Linked DNA regions of Homo sapiens. The protein of the gene in region 6 purifies or fractionates together with the protein of the main gene of each other region. This does not show direct contact. Each region holds a gene or a part of one and is shown on either strand. Other genes may lie near its edges.

The links.
Region 1: the proteins of SLAMF7 (region 6) and NAGPA purify together in Homo sapiens (affinity purification with mass spectrometry; 3 studies listed by BioGRID and IntAct, with this or other methods). This does not show direct contact.
Region 2: the proteins of SLAMF7 (region 6) and DHCR7 purify together in Homo sapiens (affinity purification with mass spectrometry, with the first as the bait; one large-scale study listed by BioGRID). This does not show direct contact.
Region 3: the proteins of SLAMF7 (region 6) and DAGLB purify together in Homo sapiens (affinity purification with mass spectrometry, with the first as the bait; one large-scale study listed by BioGRID). This does not show direct contact.
Region 4: the proteins of SLAMF7 (region 6) and MARCHF6 purify together in Homo sapiens (affinity purification with western blotting, with the first as the bait; one study listed by BioGRID). This does not show direct contact.
Region 5: the proteins of SLAMF7 (region 6) and INPP5D purify together in Homo sapiens (affinity purification with western blotting; one study listed by BioGRID). This does not show direct contact.
Region 7: the proteins of SLAMF7 (region 6) and TBC1D23 purify together in Homo sapiens (affinity purification with mass spectrometry; 3 studies listed by BioGRID and IntAct, with this or other methods). This does not show direct contact.

The regions. Positions count from the first base shown.
Region 1 is NC_000016.10:5,027,640-5,030,935, reverse strand, and holds part of NAGPA (N-acetylglucosamine-1-phosphodiester alpha-N-acetylglucosaminidase precursor), read left to right. Parts: intron 1-442; coding exon 443-551; intron 552-1,927; coding exon 1,928-2,056; intron 2,057-2,750; coding exon 2,751-2,956; intron 2,957-3,042; coding exon 3,043-3,090; intron 3,091-3,296. UniProt on the Homo sapiens protein: Catalyzes the second step in the formation of the mannose 6-phosphate targeting signal on lysosomal enzyme oligosaccharides by removing GlcNAc residues from GlcNAc-alpha-P-mannose moieties, which are formed in the first step.
Region 2 is NC_000011.10:71,441,894-71,445,393, forward strand, and holds part of DHCR7 (7-dehydrocholesterol reductase), read right to left. Parts: intron 3,066-3,500; 5' UTR 3,060-3,065; coding exon 2,962-3,059; intron 2,394-2,961; exon of another isoform or gene 2,323-2,393; coding exon 2,100-2,322; coding exon of another isoform or gene 2,064-2,099; intron 461-2,063; coding exon 370-460; intron 1-369. UniProt on the Homo sapiens protein: Oxidoreductase that catalyzes the last step of the cholesterol synthesis pathway, which transforms cholesta-5,7-dien-3beta-ol (7-dehydrocholesterol,7-DHC) into cholesterol by reducing the C7-C8 double bond of its sterol core.
Region 3 is NC_000007.14:6,437,955-6,441,454, forward strand, and holds part of DAGLB (diacylglycerol lipase-beta), read right to left. Parts: intron 1-3,500.
Region 4 is NC_000005.10:10,433,695-10,437,194, forward strand, and holds part of MARCHF6 (E3 ubiquitin-protein ligase MARCHF6), read left to right. Parts: 3' UTR 1-3,500. UniProt on the Homo sapiens protein: Endoplasmic reticulum membrane-associated E3 ubiquitin ligase that plays a critical role in mitigating endoplasmic reticulum stress, the regulation of cholesterol and lipid homeostasis, and ferroptosis.
Region 5 is NC_000002.12:233,203,342-233,205,872, forward strand, and holds part of INPP5D (phosphatidylinositol 3,4,5-trisphosphate 5-phosphatase 1), read left to right. Parts: intron 1-784; coding exon 785-1,376; intron 1,377-2,531. UniProt on the Homo sapiens protein: Phosphatidylinositol (PtdIns) phosphatase that specifically hydrolyzes the 5-phosphate of phosphatidylinositol-3,4,5-trisphosphate (PtdIns(3,4,5)P3) to produce PtdIns(3,4)P2, thereby negatively regulating the PI3K (phosphoinositide 3-kinase) pathways.
Region 6 is NC_000001.11:160,737,990-160,742,046, forward strand, and holds the start of SLAMF7 (SLAM family member 7 isoform a precursor), read left to right. Parts: upstream 1-1,257; 5' UTR 1,258-1,312; coding exon 1,313-1,367; intron 1,368-4,057. UniProt on the Homo sapiens protein: Self-ligand receptor of the signaling lymphocytic activation molecule (SLAM) family.
Region 7 is NC_000003.12:100,263,992-100,267,491, forward strand, and holds part of TBC1D23 (TBC1 domain family member 23), read left to right. Parts: intron 1-3,500. UniProt on the Homo sapiens protein: Putative Rab GTPase-activating protein which plays a role in vesicular trafficking. Involved in endosome-to-Golgi trafficking.

The DNA.
Region 1 (3,296 bases), on a different chromosome or scaffold from region 6:
AAAGAGTGGGCGGTCAAGGAAGGCCTCACTAAGGAGGTGATCTGACAAAGGAGCAAGCTAGAGAAAAGCACAGTTCCCAGCCAGAGGGAACAGGAAGTGCAAAGTGGCTGCAGGGTGGTGAGGGGACACCCAGGAGCTGAGGCAGGAGGAGGAAGAGGCTGGGGAGGGCATGCTGGCTCTTTGGATTTTGTTCTAAGAACAGGGGAAACCATTAGAGGGTCTTCACCTGGAGGCTGGCATAGCTTGGTTTACCTGTAAGAAGAGACCCCCCGGCTGCCCTGGGGAGACTGGGATGTGCAGAGGGGAGGCAGGGAGACGAGCAAGGAGGCTGCTGTGCTTCCCAGGGAGGTACCAGGTAGCTCAGACCAGTGGGAAGTGGAGTTAGGCAAGAAGCAGGAGGCCTCCCAAGGGGCGGTGATCAGCCAGGCTGCTTTTCCTTCAGGTTCCTTTAGCAAATTTGTGAATGTGATATCAGCCAGGACGGCCATTGGCCACGACCGGAAAGGGCAGCTGGTGCTCTTTCATGCAGACGGCCAAACGGAGCAGCGTGGGTGAGTCCTGGGAGCTGAGGCCCCCCGGCCGGGGCTCAGTCCTGCTAGGAGGAACGTTGACCCAATGACAGCCACCCTCTGACTCTACCTGCTTTCTGGGATGTTGACACCTATCTGTCCCCCCTCCCAGGGCCCCCTCACCTTCCCACAGGATGAGGGTTCTGAGATCTTTGCCGATTCCAAGAACTCATCATCTTCAGCTTTAGGCCTCACCTTTCCTGAACCCTAGATAGGATACAAGGAAATGGTCACAAAGTGAGCAGGGAGAAGATCTTGGTTCCAATCCCAGCTTAGCCATCGATGACTTGTCTACCCACCTATGCCGTAGACAAGTCCCTCGGCCTCCCTGAGCCTCATTTCTAGCCCCTGTAAAGAGAGTGTTTTGGTTTGCTCTGGTTGCATAACCAGCACAAATTTAGCAACACTCAGCAGGGAATGTTCTTTTGTTTGTTTGTTTCTTTGAGACAGGGTCTTACTCCGTCGCCCAGGCCAGAGTGCAGTGGTGCAATCTCAGCTCACTGCAACCTCTACCTCTCAGGTTCAGGTGATCCTCCCACCTTAGCCTCCCAGGTAACTGGGATTACGGGCACCCGCCACCACACCCAGCTAATTTTTGTATTTTTAGTAGAGATGGGGTTTCATCATGTTGGCCAGGCTGGTCTCGAACTCCTGACCTCAGGTGATCCATCTACCTCGGCCTTCCAAAGTGCTGGAATTAACAGGCGTGAGTCACCGCACCTGGCTAATTTTTGTATTTTTAGTAGACACAGGGTTTCATCATGTTGGCCAGGCTGGTCAACTTGGAATGTTCTATGTTCAGGGTGTCCCATGGACAAAACCAAGATGCTGGTTAGGCAGGGCTCTTCTCTTATCTGGAAAGAATCCTCTTGTTTAGGTTGTTGGAAGAATCCCCGTCGCCTCCTCAGTTGTGACTGAGGTCTTGGTTTCCCTGCTGGCCGCCATCTGGGGCCTCAGCTCCTTCAAGCTGCCCAGGTTCCTTCCCATGTGTGTCCTCTCCCCCAGTTGTCCGGCCACCCTCTCATCCCCCTCGTATTTCAAATCTCACTTCCTATTCTGTCACCAGCCAGAGAAGGCTCTCTGTGTTGAACACTCCTGTGATTCCAGTGGCTGCACCCAGATCCTCCGGGCCGTTTCCCCTCCCTTAAGGATTCCTATGCCATGTAACAGCACAGGCATGGGTGTGATCTCACGTGTTCACAGCTTCCGGGGGCTAGGATGAGACATGCTTGGGGGCGGGGGCCACTTAGAAATGTGCCTGCACTGTGGGCGTGATGCTCTGCACTGTGGAAGGAAAAGGAGTTAAATGAGAAATGATGGTGGGCGCTGAGCCTGAGCAGCGCCGCTTTGTGCCGCAGCATCAACCTGTGGGAAATGGCGGAGTTCCTGCTGAAACAGGACGTGGTCAACGCCATCAACCTGGATGGGGGTGGCTCTGCCACCTTTGTGCTCAACGGGACCTTGGCCAGTTACCCGTCAGATCACTGGTAAGCACGTGAGAGCCGCCTTCGTGAGGGCTGAAGTCCAGGTCTGCCCCAGCCTGTCTCATTCAGCCAATATTGAGTGCCTGCTATGTGCCAGGCCCCGGGGGTTCAAGAGAGCAGAAATTGCTGCAGTCCCTCCCCCAGGATGCCAGTACTACCCAGGCCTAGGAGCAGGGTCAGTTGGTCAGCAAAGACCTCCCTGAGGATGACAGAATAAGAACTGAGATCTGAAGGAGGTGGTAGCTGGGTGGGGGTGGGAGAGCCTTCCGGGCAGAGGGCACCACATGTGAAAGGCCCAGGGCTGGGAGGGATTGTAGGGAGCGGAGGAACCTATAAAAGACTGGAGAGGGCTGGGCACAGGGGCTCACGCCTGGAATCCCAGTGCTTTGGGAGGCCGAGGTGGGAGGTTCGCTTGGGCCCAGGAGTTTAAGACCAGTGTGGGCAACATAGACCCTGTCTTTATGAAAAAATAAAAAAAAATTAGGCAGGCGTGATGGTGCACACCTTACGGTTACAGCTGCTCAGGAGGCTCGGGTGGAAGGATCGCAATACCTCATCTCAAAAATAGATAGACGCCATCTTGTAGGTAGGTAGGTAGACAGGTGAGAATGGAGAGAGGGGTGGTTGGGGGCAGCCTGGAGGGAGTTGAGGGGCCGTCTGGGGGTGTCCTCTCCTCACACATCACATCCCTCTACAGCCAGGACAACATGTGGCGCTGTCCCCGCCAAGTGTCCACCGTGGTGTGTGTGCACGAACCCCGCTGCCAGCCGCCTGACTGCCACGGCCACGGGACCTGCGTGGACGGGCACTGCCAATGCACCGGGCACTTCTGGCGGGGTCCCGGCTGTGATGAGCTGGACTGTGGCCCCTCTAACTGCAGCCAGCACGGACTGTGCACGGAGAGTGAGTGGGGGTTCTGGGGAGGGGGCTCTGCCCAGCCCTGCCTTGCCCTAGGCCCTCACCTGGCCTCCCCGGTCTTGTCTCGGCAGCCGGCTGCCGCTGTGATGCCGGATGGACCGGGTCCAACTGCAGTGAAGGTAGGAGCTGCCACGCCACTAGCGGATGGGGAGACGGTGGCCCCCGGCAGCCCCCACTGCTCCTCTGCTGCTTCTGTCTCCACCTTCTGGTCTGGGAAATGCTTGCCTCTTGTCTTCTGCCCCGGCCTCACCTGCACATCACTGTGTGACTCCCCTGTGGCTGCTGCGGCCCGTTCCACAAAGGGCTCGGCTAAAACAAGGGTCCC
Region 2 (3,500 bases), on a different chromosome or scaffold from region 6:
CTCGTGGGTTCTCAATGATGGCAAGGAATGAACAGACAAGGTCTCCCACGGACAGCCCCGAGGAATGGTGGTCTCTGCATGGTGGTCTCTGCAGGAAGCTTCATGGGCCGAGTGCATCCCCTGCTATGGGGCTGGGAAGGAGCTGGGCCATCCATTCCCTCCTTACCCAGGAAAGTGATTTCTAACCTGGGTGTGGGATGGCCCCAGCTGCCCTCAATGGTTTTGAGGCCTGGTGCTGTGAAAAATCCAAGCAAAATGGATTTCTATCCTGTGACAAGTCTTAGGGACAAAGCAGCGCTGGGGAGGACTGGCCCCTGAGAGAAAGGGATGAGAACGGGAGCCTGGGGAGGGTGGAAGGGAGGAGGCTACCTGCAGGAGTCACGGCCCCCTCCTGGATGCCTCCTACGTAGCCGGGTAGAAACTTATGGCAGAAGTCAGGGAGAGACGTGTACAGAAGCACCTGAAACACACAAGCAGCCTGATCACCCCCCGCCTGGAGGGCACCTGCAAAGGGGGACGCATAGCAGGAACATGAGAATCACAATCATAGTCTTTTTCTTCCTGAAGCACTTATGGCTCCTGGAAGCTCAAACTGCTGGGCTGTGGGTTTTGAAGGGGGTTCTGAGACAATAAACTCATCAACCAGGGAAGGTGCCAAGGCGTTCTCCCCCAGGGCTCCATTCGCCCCTCAGGAGAGCGCACAGGTCCCTCCCAGTCACCTTTTTAAAATGGAGAATCCCATAAAATTCAACTTTTTATATATATATATAAATCTATCTTTGAGATGAGGTCTTGTTCTACCACCCAGGCTGGAGTGTAGTGGTGCAATCATAGCTCACCGCAGCGTTGTCCTCCTGAGCTCAAGTGATCCTTCCACCTCAGCCTCCCAAGTAGCTGGGATTACAGGTGTGCACCACCACACCCGGCTAAAATTCACCCTTTTAAAGTGCACAATTCAGCGGCATTTAGCGCATTTACATGGTTGGTTGTACACCTATCACTGCTAATTCCAGAACTTTTCATCACCACAGAAGAAAATGTTGTTCCAATCTCCGGTCACTCTGAATTCCCTGTCCCTGCCGCCCCTGGCTGCCACTGAGCTTTCTGCCTCTGTGGATTTGCCTGTACTGGGTATTGCATATAAAGGGAACCACACAGTATGCAGCCTCTGTGACTGGCTTCTCTCGCTCAGCAGTGTCTTCAAGGGTCATCCGCCTACTGGCATCAGAGCTTCATTCCCTTCCGCTGCCAAATAGTGTCCCACAGTGGGCACAGTGTTCTGTTCTGTGGGTCCATTCATCTACTGATGGACAGGTGGGGGTTCCTGCTTTGTGGCTATTTGTGATTCACACTGCCCCTGTCATTTTTCACTCAAAGGGACCAAGAGATCTGAACTGAGAAGTATTCTGGAGCCCAGAAGCTTGGACCCTGGGGAGAAACAGCTAATCATGATCTGAGCCTTCCTCCCGCCCAGGAAGGAAAACCCAGGCCTGTCTCTTTCTAGCACCGTTTCCCTGGAAACCTTTTCCTGGGTTCAGGCAATCAGCACCACCCATGTGTGCACCAGGTTTACAACAACCCCTTCCTGGAACTCCCTCTGGACTGGGAGGCCAGTGGGGACACCATGGAGCTGAGGACGTCCTGGACCTGCCTCGACTGCCTGTGGGGAAACATGGCCCTCGCTTCTCTGAGTGGCATCTCATGACTGAGAGAGTCCCTTTGGGGACTGAGATGCTCCTTTCCAGACCTGGTGCAAGGCGTGACTCCTGCTGACAATGGGGCTTCCTCAGGACAGCACTGCCCTCCCACGGGGTTTTGCTCCTATCCTCAGCTTGTCCCTGCAGAGCTGGGCGTGCCCAGCAACTGCATGCAGGCATGCCGTGAAGGTGTATCAAACGCTGATGTGACAGGTGCCTCCTGCCTTACAGCTGAGGATGAATCTGAACATGTCAGAGTCCAGGGAATGCCCTGCTGGGTCCCGGGAACCCAGATGTCAACCTGAGCCAGGATCCATGTCCCAGACAAATGGAAGGACTACCCCAGCAGGAGGGCACGCTCCCCACCTGCTGTGTCCCAACCCCAGGGCAGGGGCTGCTGACCTGGAAGGTGACCCACAAGGTATAGAGCTGGGCGGCTTTCCTCGTTATAGGTGGAGTCTTGGCCCAGATGTCCGAGAGCCGAGCATGTCCGGTGACGATGTCCACCACAGGGCCAGTCAGGGCGCAGCTGTACTGGTCACAAGCCATGATGAAGTAGTAGACGATGAAGGGGGCGAACAGCAGTAGGAAGATGACGCTCGCCAGTGAAAACCAGTCCACCTCCCTGCGAGGACGGATGCAGGCAGTCACACTGGGGCCCATCTGCCCTGGGCCCCACCAGGACCCTAAGAGGCTCTGTGTGGGAGAACTGTTGCTCAAACCCACCAGTACCCCATGACAGAAGGCATTAGCTCCTAGCACGGGCCCTCCTTGCGGCCAGGGAAGCCACTCAACATGCCTGCTCTACTGTAGTTGATTAACTGGTGGCACTATCTGTGGCCCCCATGGAAGGCCCAGAGCTCAGAATATGAGCGGAGGTAGGTCTTTCACAACCACCAAGGCCAGTGGTTTCCCCAGTTCCAGGTCGGAGAGGATACTCACCCTGCACGAAGTCCCCATGGTTCTATGGCGAAATGGGAGCTGTGACAATAGGTCATACCCCCAGATGGTGGGAAGGCCCCAGCTGCCCTTTAAGCCTTTATCTTTTTTTCTAAGTTGTTGACTGACCATGATTTCTAGTTTCTTTTTATAATTCCTTACTTTATAAAGTGGAAAACTGTTTACCTTTCATTAGTCTTGACAAAAAAAAAAAAATCTTTTTTAAAAAGGTCCTTCATTCCTTTGGGTCCATACAATTCCAAAGGCTGGAAAGCTCTGAGACCACACTTTACTTTCTAGCTGGGAGAACAGGCAAGATCCTTACCAGGCACGGCCCCACTGCCCTTGAGATGCGGTTCTGTCATTGGTGACGCCATCTAGACTCTTGGCTTTGGGAATGTTGGGTTGCGATTTTGCAGCCATTGGGCCCTGCAAGAAAGAGAACCTTGCTTACATTATCCCTCAAATAACAGACACCACCTTTCCCTGTTGCATCCACCACTGCTCCTGGGCCTGGCAGGGCTGGCCTCCTGTGCACATCTTCCCGGTACCTTGTTCCTGACAGCAGATTCCAGGCAGGGAAGAGATCATCTTGTCTTAGACTCTCTTCCTTGGACCCTGCAATCACCTCCCACGTGACCTTGCTATGGCTGCTCTTGCTAGTCTCAGTTCATTCTCCAAACATGGCAGAATGCCCCCCCTCTTACAGCACAAGCTGGCTCCTGCCTCCCTCCTACACACCACTCTCCCCTATTCTCCTTTGGCTCCAGGAACACAGGGGTCTTCACTCATCCTTGAACACAGTTTAAATTGTCTGTGGCACTGACTTCCTCTGCTTAGAGCACGTTTGCAGGTGTCCTTGTT
Region 3 (3,500 bases), on a different chromosome or scaffold from region 6:
TAAATTCAAAAAATTATCTTCTGTTAGAATGACTGAAATAGTTACATTTTAAAATATTAGGCACTAACATAAAGAAGGATGAGTTCATGTCCTTTGTAGGGACATGGATGAAGCTGGAAACCATCATTCTGAGCAAACTATCGCAAGGACAGAAAACCAAACACCGCATGTTTTCACTCATAGGTGGGAACTGAACAATGAGAACACTTGGACACAGGGTGGGGAACATCACACACCGGGGCCTGTAGTTGGGTGGGGGAGGAGGGAGGGATAGCATTAGGAGATATACCTAATGTAAATGACGAGTAACGGGTGCAGCACACCAACATGGCACATGTACACATATGTAACAAACCTGCATGTTGTGCACATGTACCATAGAACTTAAAGTATAAAAATAATTTTTAAAATGCAAAAATAAATAAATAAATAAAATATTAGGCACTAACAGCCTCATTTTTGGCACAAAGACAAAATTTTATAAGCTAAATAATTGTAACACTAACCTCTCTGAGGGGGAAAGGGTGCAGGTATGTGGAAAAAAAAAAACACAGTCCTATATTTGGAGCTTGTTATAACAATAGCCAAACACCCCAGAGAAACAGGAAACAGTATCTGCATACACACTGCTTCCTGGAGGGCTGGGATTCTAAAAACAGACACATCCTAATGTCAGCAGCACCTGGACTTGAAACTCCAACTGTGATGACAACTGCTGATACTGCATTAATGAAATACACAGACAAGGAATCAAGAGATGGAGTTGCTCTGATTAAGGTTCCAGAAAATAAGATATTGATCCCAGCACATTGGGTGGCCAAGGCAGGAGGATTGCTTGAGCCCAGGAGTTCGAGACCACGCTGGGGAACACAGAGAGACCTCATCTCTGATTATTTTTTAAAAAAGATAATGATGATGATGATGATGATGATGGTACTGAGAAAATCTCCTTTACACGGTTTTGCCTGCCTAGAAAAAATTTCTGGCCGGGTGCGGTGGCTCACGCCTGTAATCCTAACACTTTGGGAGGCCGAGGTGGATGGACTGTCTGAGCTCAGGGGAGGCCAAGGTGGATGGACTGTCTGAGCTCAGGAGTTTGAGACCAGCCTGGCTGACATGGTGAAACCTCATCTCTACTAAAATATAAAAAATTAGCCAGGCATGGTGGTGTGCTCATGTAGTCCCAGCTACTCAGGAAGCTGAGGCAAGAGAATTGCTTGAACCCAGGATGCGGAGGTTGCAGTAAGCCAAGACTGTGACACTGCACTCCAGCCTGGGCGACAGAGTGAGACTCTATCTCAAAAAGAAAAAAAAAGAAAAAAAAAAAAAGAAAAACTTTCCCTTTTATTTTTCCTTAAGAAAAACAGATGCTAGTATGGACCTGGCTGCCGCAGCAGGCTTCCTAAGGTCGCTGGCCCCATAACCGACAAGCACAGCTGCATTCCTAAATGTAATGTCCTCACCACTGTCTTGGTTAAGTAACCCTATCATCCATCATCAGACACAGCCACTTATGGAAGAGCAATGAAAGGAAGGCCTAGGTCCCAGAATCAGTACACTCAACTCCTATAGCCAATGCTGCAATCTTCTCTGACCCAGCTTAGCAATGAGCTCTTGGGATACAAACACAGAGGAGATACAAGGAGGCATCCCACAATCAAAGCCACACATGGCACAAGGCAGACTTTGTATGTCAAAAGGGTTCTTCTGTCAAAACATGGTAGTCATAAGGGTGGACCATCTCCAATCAAACCTCCCACAAGGTGCAACAGTGGGATTTCATTTGGGAGGTTTTCAAATTAAAAATAGAAACTAGGCCGGGTGCGGTGGCTCATACCTATAATCCGAGCAATTTGGGAGGGCAAGGCGGGTGGATCACCTGAGGTCAGGAGTTCGAGACCAGCCTGGCCAACATGGCAAAAACCCATCTCTACTAAAAATACAAAAATTAGCCAGGCATGGTGGTGGGCGCCTGTAATCCCAGCTACTCGGGAGGCTGAGGCAGGAGAATCGGTCGAACCCAAGAGGTAGAGGATGCAGTGAGCTAAGATCACGCCACTGCACTCCAGCCTGGGTGATGGAGAAAGACTCTGTCTCAAAAAAAAAAAAAAAAGAAAGAAAAAGAAACTACCACAGTATCAAAGTTTTCCTCAAATGCCGGGTGCAGTGGCTCAGGCTTGTAATCCCCAGCACTTTGGGAGGCTGAGGCGGCAGATCACCTGGAGTTCAAGACCAGCCTGACCAACATGGAGAAACCCCATCTCTACTAAAAATATAAAATTAGCCAGGTGTGGTGGTGCATGCCTGTAATCCCAGCTACTTGGGAGGCTGAGGCAGGAGAATCACTTGAACCCAGAAGGCGGAGGTTGCGGTGAGCCGAGATCATGCCATTGCACTCCATCCTGGGGACTCAAAAGCGAAACTCCGTCTCCAAAAAAAAAAAAAAAGTTTTCCTCAATTGAGCTACAGAAGAAGAGGATCAGTCTTCTGGATGGAGAGGACTGAATTCCACCTGCTCCAAATGTTCCCTCCACATCTTGTGATGTTCCTTTCAGAGAGGAGTATCAGCCAAAAGCTAAAGAAGCATTCTTTCAGCTCAGATGACAGGCTACTGGGACTTGATTTACGAAACAAAAGGGACAACAGAAGTTAGCTATGTCGGCCGGGTGCAGTAGCTCATGCCTGTAATCCCAACACTTTGGGAGGCCATGGCGGGAAGTTCGAGACCAGCCTGGCCAACATGGTTTCTACAAAAAAACACAAAATTAGACAGGCATAGTAGTGTGTGCCTGTAATCCCAGTTAATTGGGAGGCTGAGCCAGGAGAACTGCTTGAACCTGGGAGGCGGAGGTTGCAGTGAGCTGAGATCCCACCACTGCACTCCAGCCTGGGCAACAGAGCAAAATTCCATCTCAAAATCAATCCATCAGTCAATCAATCATTTATATTTCCTTTACATGTTCATGTTCTTTGCCCATTTTCCTACTGACCATTGGTTTTTTCTTTGTTTTTTTTTTGAGGGGGGGACGGAGTTTCCCTCTTGTGAAAGTGCTGGGGTTACAGGCATGAGCCACCGCTCCCAGCTTTCGATACATATTTTTAATAAGGCATATGACGTTATGTGTAACAAACTGACAATTTTTTTTTTTTTTTTGAGATGGAGTCTCGCTCTGTCGCCCAAGCTGGAGTGCAGTGGCGCGATCTCGGCTCACTGCAAGCTCCGCCTCCCAGGTTCATGCCATTCTCCTGGCTCAGCCTCCCAAGTAGCTGGGACTACAGGCAGCTGCCACCACGCCTGGCTAATTTTTTGTACTTTTTAGTAGAGACGGGGTTTCACCATGTTAGCCAGGATGGTCTCAATCTCCTCACCTCATGATTCGCCCGCCTCGGCCTCCCAAAGTGCTGGGATTACAGGCGTGAGCCACCGCGCCCGGCCACAAACTGACAATTAAACAAACATTTTTTTCTTTTTTTTTTTTTTGAGACAGAGTCTCACTCTG
Region 4 (3,500 bases), on a different chromosome or scaffold from region 6:
TCAACAACTTGACCTTCCCCTTTACATGTCCTTTTTTGTGGACTTCTCTCTTTGGAGATTTTTCCCAGTGATCTCTCAGCGTTGTTTTTAAGTTAAATGTATTTGACTTGTGTTCTCAGCATTCAGAGAGCAGCGGTGTAAGATTCTGCTGTTCTCCCTGGATCTTCTGACATTACTGCTGTCTGAGATTTGTATATGTGTAAATACAAGTTCCTTGATACCCTAAAACCTTGGATTAAACAGAATGTGCATTGTACATCTTTAAACAAAATGTATATTAATTTATTAAATCTAGTTGTCACTTTATTTTGGACCTGCTGTGATCTCGACAGGAAACGTGCCACAGAGCAGTAGTGCGCAGGCAAGACTTTTCAGTGACGCCTTGTGGAACGCAGTTCATGATGTCCTAGCAGCTCTCACTAAGGGAACTGTACATTCTTTCTTTCTTGGCTATTCAGACCTTACCAAGAACGTTAAAGGAAACAAGTAGAAATCAGCAGTGGAGTGTCTGTGGTAAGAAAACATGAACTTTATGCTTCACTGTTAGTTGTTTGTGGAAGTTATTTTGTATAACACCAAAGCTGTTGTACATTTCCTACTGCCTGATTTTTTTCATGTGTCTGTGTTTGTAATATTGTATAGTATCTTGTGCTAGGTGAGGAAATTATTTTTAATTTTGATAATTTAATATTCCTAGTGTGATCAGCATTGGGAGTTGGGTTTCAGTGGGGCATGTCTATACTTAGAGAAAAAAAGTCCAAATGAAGATTTTCATGAGTCAGCCCCCCCGCCCGCCCCCACCCCACACCCACATCCTCTCTTTTCCACACACAACTATCTGTTTATTTTTTGTAGCAGTGGCCGAAAGTCCTGCAAGGTCATAAATCTTTCAGAGTGACATCACCAACTGTACTGCATCTTACTGGATTTAGGACTTCTGAGATGCTTGTGAAGTATAGATGTGGTTGTGGTCTTAGATTGACAGCATTAGAGAAGACTGGTTAGAACATCTGGTCTCGCTGGTTAGTGCCTCGTTGGCTGAGGACTAGGTGTGCATTTCTCCTAGCTTTTCATCAGGAAATCCCAAAGTTTCCAAAGCTTTTTGTTTACAGAATAAAACTTCAAATAAAACCAATTCATTATTTGTCCAGAAGGAAGCTTGGCTGAGCTGGCCTTTTAACATAGGAATGTATTTCGTTGGAAACATTCTGAAAAATCTCAGAGAACTGAACCCTTACAAACTTTGTTTTCCCTCATAACCAAAGCTTCAGGTTAGAAGTTTAGAAAAATAGAATGGTTGGGTACATGATCTAAATGTTTAATGCTAAAGGTATATCGTAAGGGTAGTGTTTGTTTTTGAACGATAATTTAGAAGTTCTCATAGAAAGCGTATAACATAGGTCTTCAGAAACTATAAAAGAATTTTCATATAGTATTAAAATCCATAGACTAAAATCTGAGAATTTTTTAACATATGCAAGTCAGCCAAACATAAGCTACCAAAATAAAGAGCAATGTGTTCTGGCTGTTTTATACTTCAACAATTTTTTCCCTAAGTGGTAAGCAATTACTTTAAAACATATTTTTAAAAACATCGGTATCGGGAGCTGCGGTGGCTCCGGCCGGTTGTCCTGGCACACAAGGAGGCGAGGCTATGCGTTCGAGGCCAACCTAGGCAAAATTGGAAAAAAAAAAAAAAATCAGTATCAGAAATAATGCTTGACATAGGATTCAGTGTTATACTCTTTGGCACTTTAGAGCAGCCTTTTCTCTCATTTGAAATAAGGTCTTTGTTAGCCCTACCTTTACTCAGAAATTTAGTCCTACTATAAAAAATTAGGATTTTAAAATATAATGCTGCCTGTCATAGTGTATTTCTAAATTGCTCTCTTTGGGAGAAAAACATTATTATTGAATTGAGCATATAACTATATAACTATATAACTATATATATATATATATATATATATATATATATATATATATATATATATATATATATATTTTTTTTTTTTTTTTTTTTTTTTTTTTTTTGCCCCCGAGACAGAGTCTTACTCTGTTGCCCAGGCTGGAGTGCAGTGGCACGATCCTGGTTCACTGCACCCTCTGCCTCCCAGGTTCAAGCGATTCTCCTGCCTCAGCCTCCCAAGTAGCTGGTACTACAGGTGCGTGCCACCACACCTGGCTTATTTTAGTTATTTTAGTAGAGATAGGGTTTCACCATGTTGGCCAGGCTGGTCTCGGAACTCCTGACTGCAGGTGATCCGTCCTCCTTGGGCTCCCAAAGTGCTGGGATTATAGGTGTGAGCCCCCACGCCTGGCCAACTTGATTATATTAATTTTGGGTTTTTTGTTTTGTTTTGTTTTGTTTTTTAATTTTTCAAAGAATTTGTGGATCTTGGTATAAAGTCATTGGAACATATCTGTTTTAACAGCAAGAGATCCTAGGCAGATACTTCAAAAGGTTAAAAATTCTTAATCCTACAGAATTTTAAATGAATCTTATCAATGTTTTGTAAACAAACAATATGAATGGCCAAAAAATTGCCCTCCATTTTACTGGCAGGTAATTTATATTGTCTTACTTAAGAATTCTCCCCTAGTTTTTCAATTGTACTTTATCGTGTTGTTTTCAATGAGATAAGTATTTTCATAGGGAAAGCATTTTCCAGCATAATATTTGCTTGGGTAGCATCCGGGTTTTAGTATTTAACCAAGAGCCTTTTAAATATTGAAAACCCATAGTTCAGAAAATGTTAGTATTGCTGCCCTTCTTCACATAAATTTTTTTTTAAATTATACTATTATTTTGCTTAATTTTATATTGGGTTAAAACAACCTTCAAGAAGGTTAACTAGGAAAGAAGACCTTTTTGTTTTATTTTTACTATTTATATATAGAAGACAAATCAGCATTTGGTGATAGTTTTACATGACCAGTTATCAAACGGTCATAGTATGAAGTGTGCAGTTGTTCATTATTAGTAAATTATGTTTGATTTTTAAACTATTTAGTACTAATAGTTGAGATGAAAACTGAAGAAAAATGCCAATGTGACGTTTGTGTATAGCTAGCCTTAAAAAACTTCCCATGTTTTTAGGTGACTTTTTTCCCCCTCTTAGTACTCTGGAGAAACAATGAAGATGGGCCATCTCAATTCCAGATGTAAACAAAAAGTAATTTTTATTTCAACATTTAATGTAACTGCTATTATTGTGGATTCTTGTCTTGTGTATTTTCTTTCCCTTATTCAAGTAATATAGAATAACTTTCCTTAAAATGATTTGATCCAAGATACGTCATTTCTGTATTGGCAAAATGCCACTATTAAAGTGTAATTCTTGAATTTAGGTTGAATTGATGACTTTTTAAAACAAAACAAACACTGGACAGTTCTACATTGTATTGCGTTTGCGAATGTGCGTGAACACACGCACACGTGCAGGAGAATGTAGTGCCATAAGAACACTGGCGCTTTTTAAAACTTTCCAAGCTAGCTA
Region 5 (2,531 bases), on a different chromosome or scaffold from region 6:
GCTCATCTGATGAGGATGAGGGGTTGATACTGAGGTGCCATGTAAGTTCTCACTTCATTTCTCCCACAAATCCTCCAGTGCCATGCCCCTTGCTCACAGATGCTCTGATGTGAACAGGTTTTATAGTGGAAAAGGTCCCAGGCCAGAACTGAGGCTGTCTTTGAGGACAACGTATGATGAACACAGTACTGTTTCCTCTTCCTTTTTTTCACTTGAGGTGAAATTCACTTAACATAAAATTAACCATTTCAAAATGAACAGTTTGCTAGGCTGGGCACAGTGGCTTATGCCCATAATCCCAGCACTTTGGGAGGCCAAAGTGAGAGGACTGCTTGAAGCGAAGAGTTCAAGACCAGCCTGGGCAATATAGTGAGACTCCCCATCTCTACAGAATAAAACAAAACTAAAAAATTAGCCAGGCCTGGAGGCATTGCTACTCCCAGCAATGTCCAGCTACTCCTAGCTACTCCCAGCTACTCCCAAGTAGTCTCAGCTACTTGGGAGGCTGAGGGGAAGGACTGCTTGAGCCCAAGAGGTTGAGGCAGCAGTGAGCCATGACCGCACCACTGCACTCCAGCCTGGGTGACAGAGCGAGACTCTGTCTCTAAAACAAAACAAGACAAAACAATTTGGTGCCATTCAGTAAATTTGCAATGTTACATGTCTCTATCTAGTTCAGAAACATTTGTATCACCCCAAAGAAAGACCCAGAGCCATTAAGCAGCCATGCTCCCATGTCTTCTCCCCTGGACATGTGTCTTCCCTGCTCTGTCCCTGGCTCTAGGCCCAGTGACCTGGGGAAGAACGCAGGGGACACGCTGCCTCAGGAGGACCTGCCGCTGACGAAGCCCGAGATGTTTGAGAACCCCCTGTATGGGTCCCTGAGTTCCTTCCCTAAGCCTGCTCCCAGGAAGGACCAGGAATCCCCCAAAATGCCGCGGAAGGAACCCCCGCCCTGCCCGGAACCCGGCATCTTGTCGCCCAGCATCGTGCTCACCAAAGCCCAGGAGGCTGATCGCGGCGAGGGGCCCGGCAAGCAGGTGCCCGCGCCCCGGCTGCGCTCCTTCACGTGCTCATCCTCTGCCGAGGGCAGGGCGGCCGGCGGGGACAAGAGCCAAGGGAAGCCCAAGACCCCGGTCAGCTCCCAGGCCCCGGTGCCGGCCAAGAGGCCCATCAAGCCTTCCAGATCGGAAATCAACCAGCAGACCCCGCCCACCCCGACGCCGCGGCCGCCGCTGCCAGTCAAGAGCCCGGCGGTGCTGCACCTCCAGCACTCCAAGGGCCGCGACTACCGCGACAACACCGAGCTCCCGCATCACGGCAAGCACCGGCCGGAGGAGGGGCCACCAGGGCCTCTAGGCAGGACTGCCATGCAGGTGCGCTGCGCCACACGTGGGTTCGTGTGCATTTGTGTGTGTGTGCATGCGTGAGTGCGTATGTGTGTACCTATGCATATGTGTGTGCATGTGTGTGTGCACGCATGCATATGTGCGTGCATGTGTGAACGCATGCATGTGCACACATGCGAGTGATGGTCCTGGGAACTGCTCCATGAGAAGGGAGAGTCAGGATTTGAACCCAGGTCTGCCTGTCCCACACATCCCTGACCCTGCATTGCCTCTGCAGCAGTTGTTAAAAGGAAGAAAGGCGGGGCTGTGGATAAACTTAGTCTAGTGTCAGTCCCAGAGGAAGAAGATTCCATAAAGAAAAGGAGCCTAAATCATTTATATCTCATTGTTATTATAAATTTGTTTTGCAACTGAGTTTCGCCAGGCACAGTGGATCACGAGGTCAGGAGATCGAGACCATCCTGGCCAACATGGTGAAACCCCGTCTCTACTAAAATACAAAAAATTACCCGGGCATGGTGGCGCACGCCTGTAGTCCCAGCTGCTTGGGAGGCTGAGGCAGGGGAATCGCTTGAACCTGGGAGGCAGAGGTTGTGGTGAGCCGAGATTGCGCCACTGCACTCCAGCCTGGTGACAAAGCAAGACTCCGTCTCAAAAAAAAAAAAAAAAAAAAATTAAAAAACAACAACAACGGAGTTTCACTCTTTGTTGCCCAGGCTAGAGTCCAGTGGTGTGATCTCGGCTCACTGCAACCTGCGCCTCCTGGGTTCAAGCGATTCTCCTGTCTCAGCCTCCCGAGTGGCTGGGATTACAGGCACCTGCCACCATGCCTGGCTAATTTTTGTATTTTTAGTAGAGATGGGATTTCACCATGTTGGCCAGGCTGGTCTCGAACTCCTGACCTCAGGTGATCTGCCTGCCTGGGCCTCCCAAAGTTCTGGGATTACAGGCATGAGCCACTGCACCCAGCCTCATTGTTATTATTAAGTCGCATTCATACTTGAAAATTTCCCAATATTTTGGAGAATTCAGCACACTTTCCCTCTCCTTCATGTAAAATAAAAAATTTTTTGAGCAAAACTAACAGTGATTAAGAACAGACTCCAGGCCGGGCGTGGTGGCTCATGACTGTAATCCCAGCATTTTGGGAGGCCGAGGTGGATGGATCACCTGAGGTCAGGA
Region 6 (4,057 bases):
AATATGTACAGCAACCAGTAAAAAAACTCTTCAAAAAGATACATTATAGATAAATCAAAATGGAATTATAAAAAATATTCCAGTAACACACAGGATGGCCAGGAAAGTGAAACAGAGGAACAAAATAAACAAACAAAAGCCCAGAAGAACAAAGAGAAAATAATAACATGGCAAACTTAAGCTCTGATATATAAATAATTACATTATGTAAGTCAGTTAAATAGAATAGATAGCTCCAGAATATACCCACACAAGTATAAGTGCTGATTTTTGATAAAGATACAAAAGTAATTCAATGTAGGAAAGATCATCTTTTCCATCACATGGTAGTAGAACAATTGAACACCCACAGGCAGAAGAAAAAAAAACACGCACATTGTAATCATACTTCTGAAAACCAAAGGCAAACAAAAAACTTTTAAAACAGCTAGAGAAAAATGACACATTACCTATAGGGAAAACAATTTAAATGATGGCTGATTTCTCACTGGAAACCATGGAGGGGAGGAGTGTCATGACACTTTTCAAGTGTCGAAAGCAAAAAAAAACTGTCAACCATATTACCTGATATGGTTCTCAATGAATATAGACAATATATTTAGGTGAATCTCAACCTAAACTTCACACCTTACATTAAAACAGGATCATACATTTAAATGTAAAACATAAAACTATAAAACTTTCAGGAGAAAACCTTTGGACCCTAGTGTGGGTAGAAAAAAAACTGATAAGTTGAATTTCATCAAAATTAAAATTTTTGCTCTGCCAAAGACCCCGTTAAGAAGATGAAAAGACAGGCTACAGACCAAGAGAAAATATTTGTAAACCACATATCTGACAAATGACTCTTATACTTGGAACATATAAGGAATTGTCAAAGCTCAACAGTAAAAAAAATAAAGAATCTGATTATAAAATGGACAAAAGACATAAATAGACATTTCACCAAGGAGGATATGGATATATAGATGGCAAATAAGCACATGAAAAGATGTTCAACATTATTAGGCTTTAGGGAAATGCAAATTAAAGCCACAATGAGGTATCACTACAGCACCTATTAAAACAGCTAAAATATAAAATGGGAATATACCAAATGCTGATGAAGATGGGGAGCAAATAGATCTCTCATAGATTGCTGGTGGCAAGGTAAAATGCTCTATTCACTCTGAAAATAATTTAGCAATTACTCAATCTCACATGTCTGCGGCGTGACCCCTCCTGCTTCTTTAAATATCAGCTGGGGAAGAGGTCTGAGTAATACCTAAGAGGGAAGTGGCTTCATTTCAGTGGCTGACTTCCAGAGAGCAATATGGCTGGTTCCCCAACATGCCTCACCCTCATCTATATCCTTTGGCAGCTCACAGGTGAGTCCGGCCGGATTCTCTTCCACTCTCCTGTCTACCCCATCCTGAATAGTTCCAGGTTTCTTGTTCCACTCTGGGCCTCTGGCTCAACTCGGGAGGCTCTGTGTTCTCATCTAACATTTGCTTTTTATCAATCTCTGATCTCTGATTCTCAGGTCAGGAAGAGACTAGAGAGAGGGGGAAAAATGGCTCTGGGAACTGACTCCCCTGTTGACTGTCCCAGGGATGAAGGAGCTGAAAGAAGTGGTGCTGGGTATCAGAGACCATTTTTCTAATCCAGGTTCTGCCATGAGTTAGATAAGGAATGTTAAAGTTTTCCTGGGCCTCAGAAACTTTATCTTCTAGCCTTCTCTCCTTTTGAGGGCAACTTTAAGAACAAGATGATACTATACAGGTATGTATTTATTTACTTATAAATGTATTTATAAAATTGGTTATGCATAACAGTAATATAAATGGAAAGAATCACTTGAATTTTCTTTCCTTACTCAAGCAATGTAATCAGTCTCTACTTAGAGAACCAACTCATACCATAGGCACTTTATGTTTAATCCCATGGAGGACAGAGGACAGTTCTCCACCTGTCACTGGTATTCTAGTCTTTGAAGATTTTTCTATCCTAAGGGCTCTCAGAAAGGATCAGGAGCCCTATAAGTGAGAAATATCTCTTCTGTCATCAATCTCATGGAGTACTACCATGAGGTCCCCCTATAAGGACTTCACATAACTGCTTCATTATGTGTATCTGAGCCTGCCTGGAGTGATCTGCCCAAGACCACGCAGGCAGCTGGTGCCCCCAATATTTTCCCCTGCATCGCTAAGTGGTCAGCATCAGCAGACTCTTACCCACTTTGAATTCATCAGAAGTTTGTATTTTTGAGAGGTACCTGGGTCTAACCAGGTGGTTCTGGAATAGGCCCTCACTTTAAAAAAAAAAAACAAAAAAAAAACTCCCTGAACGGAAATGATGAGCAGAAATAGAACTTGAGGGAGATAAGGTGGAGGGGTTGGGGAAAATTATAGAGACTTTGAAAGCTACAGGTGTCCATCTGAAATCAGTCAGCGAAAGAGCACAAGTATGAAAAACTGCCATGCAGGTCCCCCTCTGCCCTCCTCCAGAGGCAGCCTGTGTAGTGTACCTCCTGAGGCTGAAAGGAGACAGAGATTGTCCTGGAACTTCCAGTGGGCAGGGCAGTGGAACAAATCCTGGCACTGGACAAGCGCATCCTTGGTTTGACTTAGTAGCTGTATTATTGTAGGCAAATTACTCTTCCCTTCTGAGCCTTGCTCTTCTCAGGTGTGTAACAGAGAATGAAATCTAAGTTGCAGAATTATTGTGACATTTTAAATGACATATCAAATGCAAAATAATTATTAAAATAATCACCATTTATTAAGTTACTACATCGCAGGTGTTTTTCATACCACCTCCTCATGAGTCTGTAAGACAGATATCATTATCCCTGTTTTACAGTTGAGGAAACTTAGGCTCAGCAGAGAGATCACGCTTCTTGGGCAAGATAACACAGCATTTATAAGGTAGCCAGAGATTGAGTTTAGAAAGCTAGAAAGCTAGTGCTCTTTTAATCATAACAAGCCGTCTATCACTGGACCTGGCACCAAAGAGATGCTCACTACATGTGCATTTGAGCTGAATCTTCCTCAGGGAGTACCAGTTGGGGTTTCTTCCCTCTCCAGGTACATAAATCTGAGGTAGAAACTGGAAAGGCCCGAGAAGAACGGGTAGCTCTGTTTCTGGGATATGGGTGTACCAACAGGGGGCCACCCTGGCTAAACTCAGAGGGTCCATGAAGCAGTTCTCATGGCCTCAGTATTCTCATCTGAAAAATGGGCACAGTAATCTGCCAATGATTTGATGATACAGTAGTGTCAAGGAGACAATCAATAAAAAGAAAACAAAAAAGTGGGTGAGGGGAATTGGGAGAGTGTTGAAAAGAACCAGAAGAAACAAGGAAGAGGGGGCAGGAGATGAGTGAGGAGCAGAGTGGTGAGCAACCTAAATGTGAATGTGGTCGGTTAGGGCTAGAGTGATGGGAAAGGTGTGTGGTGAAGCGGGAAACTTTCAAGCCTCTGTCTGTGGCTGCCTTGTGTGGCATTGAATTACACTGCTCTTTCGTGAGTACATTCGTTAAGGGGGACTTGAGTAAAGTGCAATAGATTTCAAACCACTTTGGGTTTTTTTTGCCTTTTTTTTTAAATCCATGGTTTCCTTTTATGGAATGAAATTTTACACAGAAAAAAACAAATAAATGACTCCAATGTATAGAGTTGAAGCCTAACGGAAGCAAGTCCCATAGCCTCCTATCCTACGCTCACCCCTTAAACCTCCTCCTGAGCTCCCAAGAAATACACTGAGGCACTGCCACAGCCTCCAAAGGTGGCGCCATGGGGCACAGTCTGTGAAATCCTGCCTTAGGAGCCTTGGCTCCTAATCCTGGCCTTCCACTGGTTTGGGAAACATCACCATAACCTTCTGAATATCAGCCTTCTTATCTGTGAAATGGGATTGGACTAAGTAATCCCTAAGACTCCTCCAAGCTCTGAGATGCTCTGGTTCATGGTTTTCATGAGGAGAGTGCCACAACACACTGCTACATTTGGACAGAGGCACCAAGTGTTCAGAGAAGTGCTTGGGGACGGGGTTGGCAAGCAGGAGGCAGGCTTTTCCA
Region 7 (3,500 bases), on a different chromosome or scaffold from region 6:
CTGTTTTCCCTCCATCCTCTTCTAATCTTTCTCCTTTTTATCCTGGCACTCTCATCAGCCCCCCAGAAGAGGATTTGAATAGGAAGACTTTGGGATTGGGAGCCAGAGGTTCAGTAAAGGCTCTGTTCTTAGAGTGCTTGGTGAATGGGTTATAGAATGGGGATGCTTTACTCTTGTTTTGTTTTGTTTTGTTGAAGAAACGAGGTCTCGCCATGTTGCCCAGGCTGGCCTCATACTCCTGAGTAGCTGGGGACTACAGGTGTGCCCCATCCATCCGGGTGTTCTACTCTGTCTTTCTCTCCCCTCCCCCTCCCTCCCTCTCTTTCTTTATCTCTCTTTCTTTTTGGAGTAAATGTTTTTATTTTAACTCTGTCAGATGGAATTTTTTCTAAAATGTATCATATATCTTACTGCCTAGCTCAAACTCATCTTAATGACTTGAGTCATTCAGTTTACAAATGTAAGTGTAATTTAAGGATAGAACTAGGTCTCTGTCCTCAGGGAATTTATGTTCTAGATACAGGAGGCATGTTTGAGAACATCGATTACTTTTGTGTTATTGTAATGTGGTGAGACTTTTAGGGCCTATCTAGACAAATTGTTGCTATGTTAAGTGACACAGCTATCCCTTTTTGAGATTGCTTTTTATAAGTTTTTCCTATTTTCTTTTTTTGTTGTCAGTGGTATCTCAATTTGTTCCTAGTCTGTGAAACTAAGCCATTGAACTTGTTGAAATTGTATATACATTCTTAAAAAGGCTCAGGATGGACCTTGAAGATCTTAAAAGTATGTGGACTCTATGACATTGTTTTTGCTGATTTTCAGTTATGTTCTAGTTCACTGCTTCTCAAAATTTAAACGTACATTGGAATTATCTGGGGAGCTTGTTAAAATGCTCTCCAGGTAACTGTGATTGTGATTCAATATATTTTGAGGTGGAACTTGAGAGTCTCTGTTTCTGACTAGCTGCTGGGGGTTGCCAATTCTGGTGGTTTATGGACCACACTTAAGTTAGCAGGGTTCTAGGTTATATATATATCAGAATGAGTAGGTCAGAGGAATTTGTATATGTCACATTGTATCACCTTACATGTTATACTAAAATATGTGTAATTACATGACTTATCATTGTTCTTTAGATAATGAACTTCTCAAGGGCAGTGGCTGATAAAAGGCAGGTGTCTCAGTAAATGTTTATTGAATGAATGTACGCATGAATGAAAACTTTCCTGTAATTATGTGCAATAGCATACTAAGCTGTCATTTCATATAAATTTCCTGACTCCAGTGTTTTTGTGAGCTGTGGAATTGTCTGTTGGTATAATGCTTATTCTTTATGGAAAGCCAAAGTAATCAGAAAATGCCTCAGCTTTCAAGCTCCCTGGGATTCAGCCATGTAAGCTCAAAGGGTGTGGTGAAATTCTTGTAAAAATGCTTATAGTTAGTTTTAAGTGATTTGAATTTAATTTTAAAAAATTAATATAAGTTATGAGAATCTGGATTTGTAAAATTAAACATGTTAAATTGTTACAGTGAAAAGATTGGTAATTACCCTCCTTGGTATTGAAGAAACTAGCACTGGATTTGAACATATGTTCTCATTTTCCGATACTTTCTTCCCAAAATAATGTCTAAAGATCTATAGTCATAATTAAAAAATTATTTTGGTATTGACTTCAATTATATAACTGTTGAAATTGGGAGTTTGTTTAATTAAAAAATGTTACTTAATATTCAACTTTTAATTAGGGTTTTTTATTGCTAAACCTTTCTTAAGTTATTGCTAAACTTTTCTTAAAATTGTAAAAATATTAATTCCACAAAGAATCTTCTATTGTTGTTAATCTGAGATGTGAGTAGGAATTGTTTGAGAATAATATTTTTCAAAGTTTTCTGCACTCTGTAAATAGTACTATCAGTGTTCCCCATTTAATAAGCATTGAAATATGAGAAAAAACTTAAAATGTCTTTTAAGAACTAAGTGATTGAAATTTCAGATATGATATAATCAATAAAGAAATATATTAAATGTAAAAGAAAAAGGAACTGTTTGTCTAAGAAGGACATTGTCTACTTGTGGAACTGGGAAGGCTGGATACTACTTTTAGAAGAAATGAGAAAATGAACTTCATTTTTTGAATTGGGGTTATGATGTGACAGTTATTTGATTTTGTAAACTATAATTAGAGGGCAGGCAAAGATAAGAAATGAAAAAGACTTATTTTATACTGTTTACATTAAAGTCTTTAATTATAATTTAGATTTTAGAGTTTTTAAAGGTAATTTTTTTTTTTTTGAGACGGAGTCTCATTCTGTCACCCAGGCTGGAGTGCAGTGTGCGATCTTGGTTCACTGCATCCTCCGCCTCCTGGGTCCAAGGGATTCTCCTGCCTCAGTCTCTCAAGGAGCTAAGATTACAGGCATGTGCCACCATGCCCGGCTAATTTTTGTATTTTTAGTAGAGATGGGGTTTCACCATGTTGGCCAGGCCGGTCTCAAACCCCTGACCTCAGGTGATCCACCCTCCTCACCCTACCACAGTGTTGGGACTACAGGCATGAGCCACTGCACCCAGCCTAAAGGTAATTCTTAGGTAATAATTCACTTCTAGGATTTTGTTTCCTGTGGATGTTTTAATATCCATAATTTGAGTTAGTAATTGGTTTTTGCATGCTAAATAAATGTATTTCAATTAATTCATTTTTATCTCTGTGTAATCACTGCAGAGAGGCGACAAGTGCATTCCCTCTGTAAGTATAGTGAGCAATTCAGAGCACCCAGTTAAATATACTGTAATATGCAGCCAACTTTTAAGTAGGAGTCTTCTGGAGAGAATTGAGAAAATATGCTTGACAAAGCATTTCTGATGCACAGTGCTGAAATGTGGATTCTTTTTGGTATAAAGACAGTGCCTTCTCTCATGTGTCAAAAAGCAAAATAGAGTTTAGCAAAAACATTCTCAGTTCAGCAAACATTCACTGAATAGTGGTTATATTCAAGCTGCTGTGTAAGGTTTTAGAAAAAAATTTGAAACAGTTTTACAATCAGGAATGTGCATTGTGGTGCCTTCCTGGGATACTTTGATTTTTTTCATCATTTTATCTCTAGGAATACTGTGTGAAAATAGCTTCTGAAGATATCTAAATGCTGGTGTTTTGGAAATTACAGGCTCTAACAGAAAATAATAGGATTAAACAGTTTGAAAAGGGGCAGGGCTTGAAATGAGTTAAATATTGAGAATTACAGATGGAAAGCAGGTAAGTACCTTCCATTAAGCTCATAAAATCAAATTCTTTCTTGTAGAAATAAAGAATTTAAGAGCCACTTAAACCTATTTTCTGAAATTTAATGTCTGTTTGTTTCAAGGGTCTGCGTAACTTTTTAACCTGAGTTAAGAAAATGATGACTAATAAAGTCATTTGTTGCAAGTCTTCATCTTTTTTCTTGATGCTTAAAGGAGTTTTTTCTTATCCTTTAGCTGACATAGCATTTGATAGTTG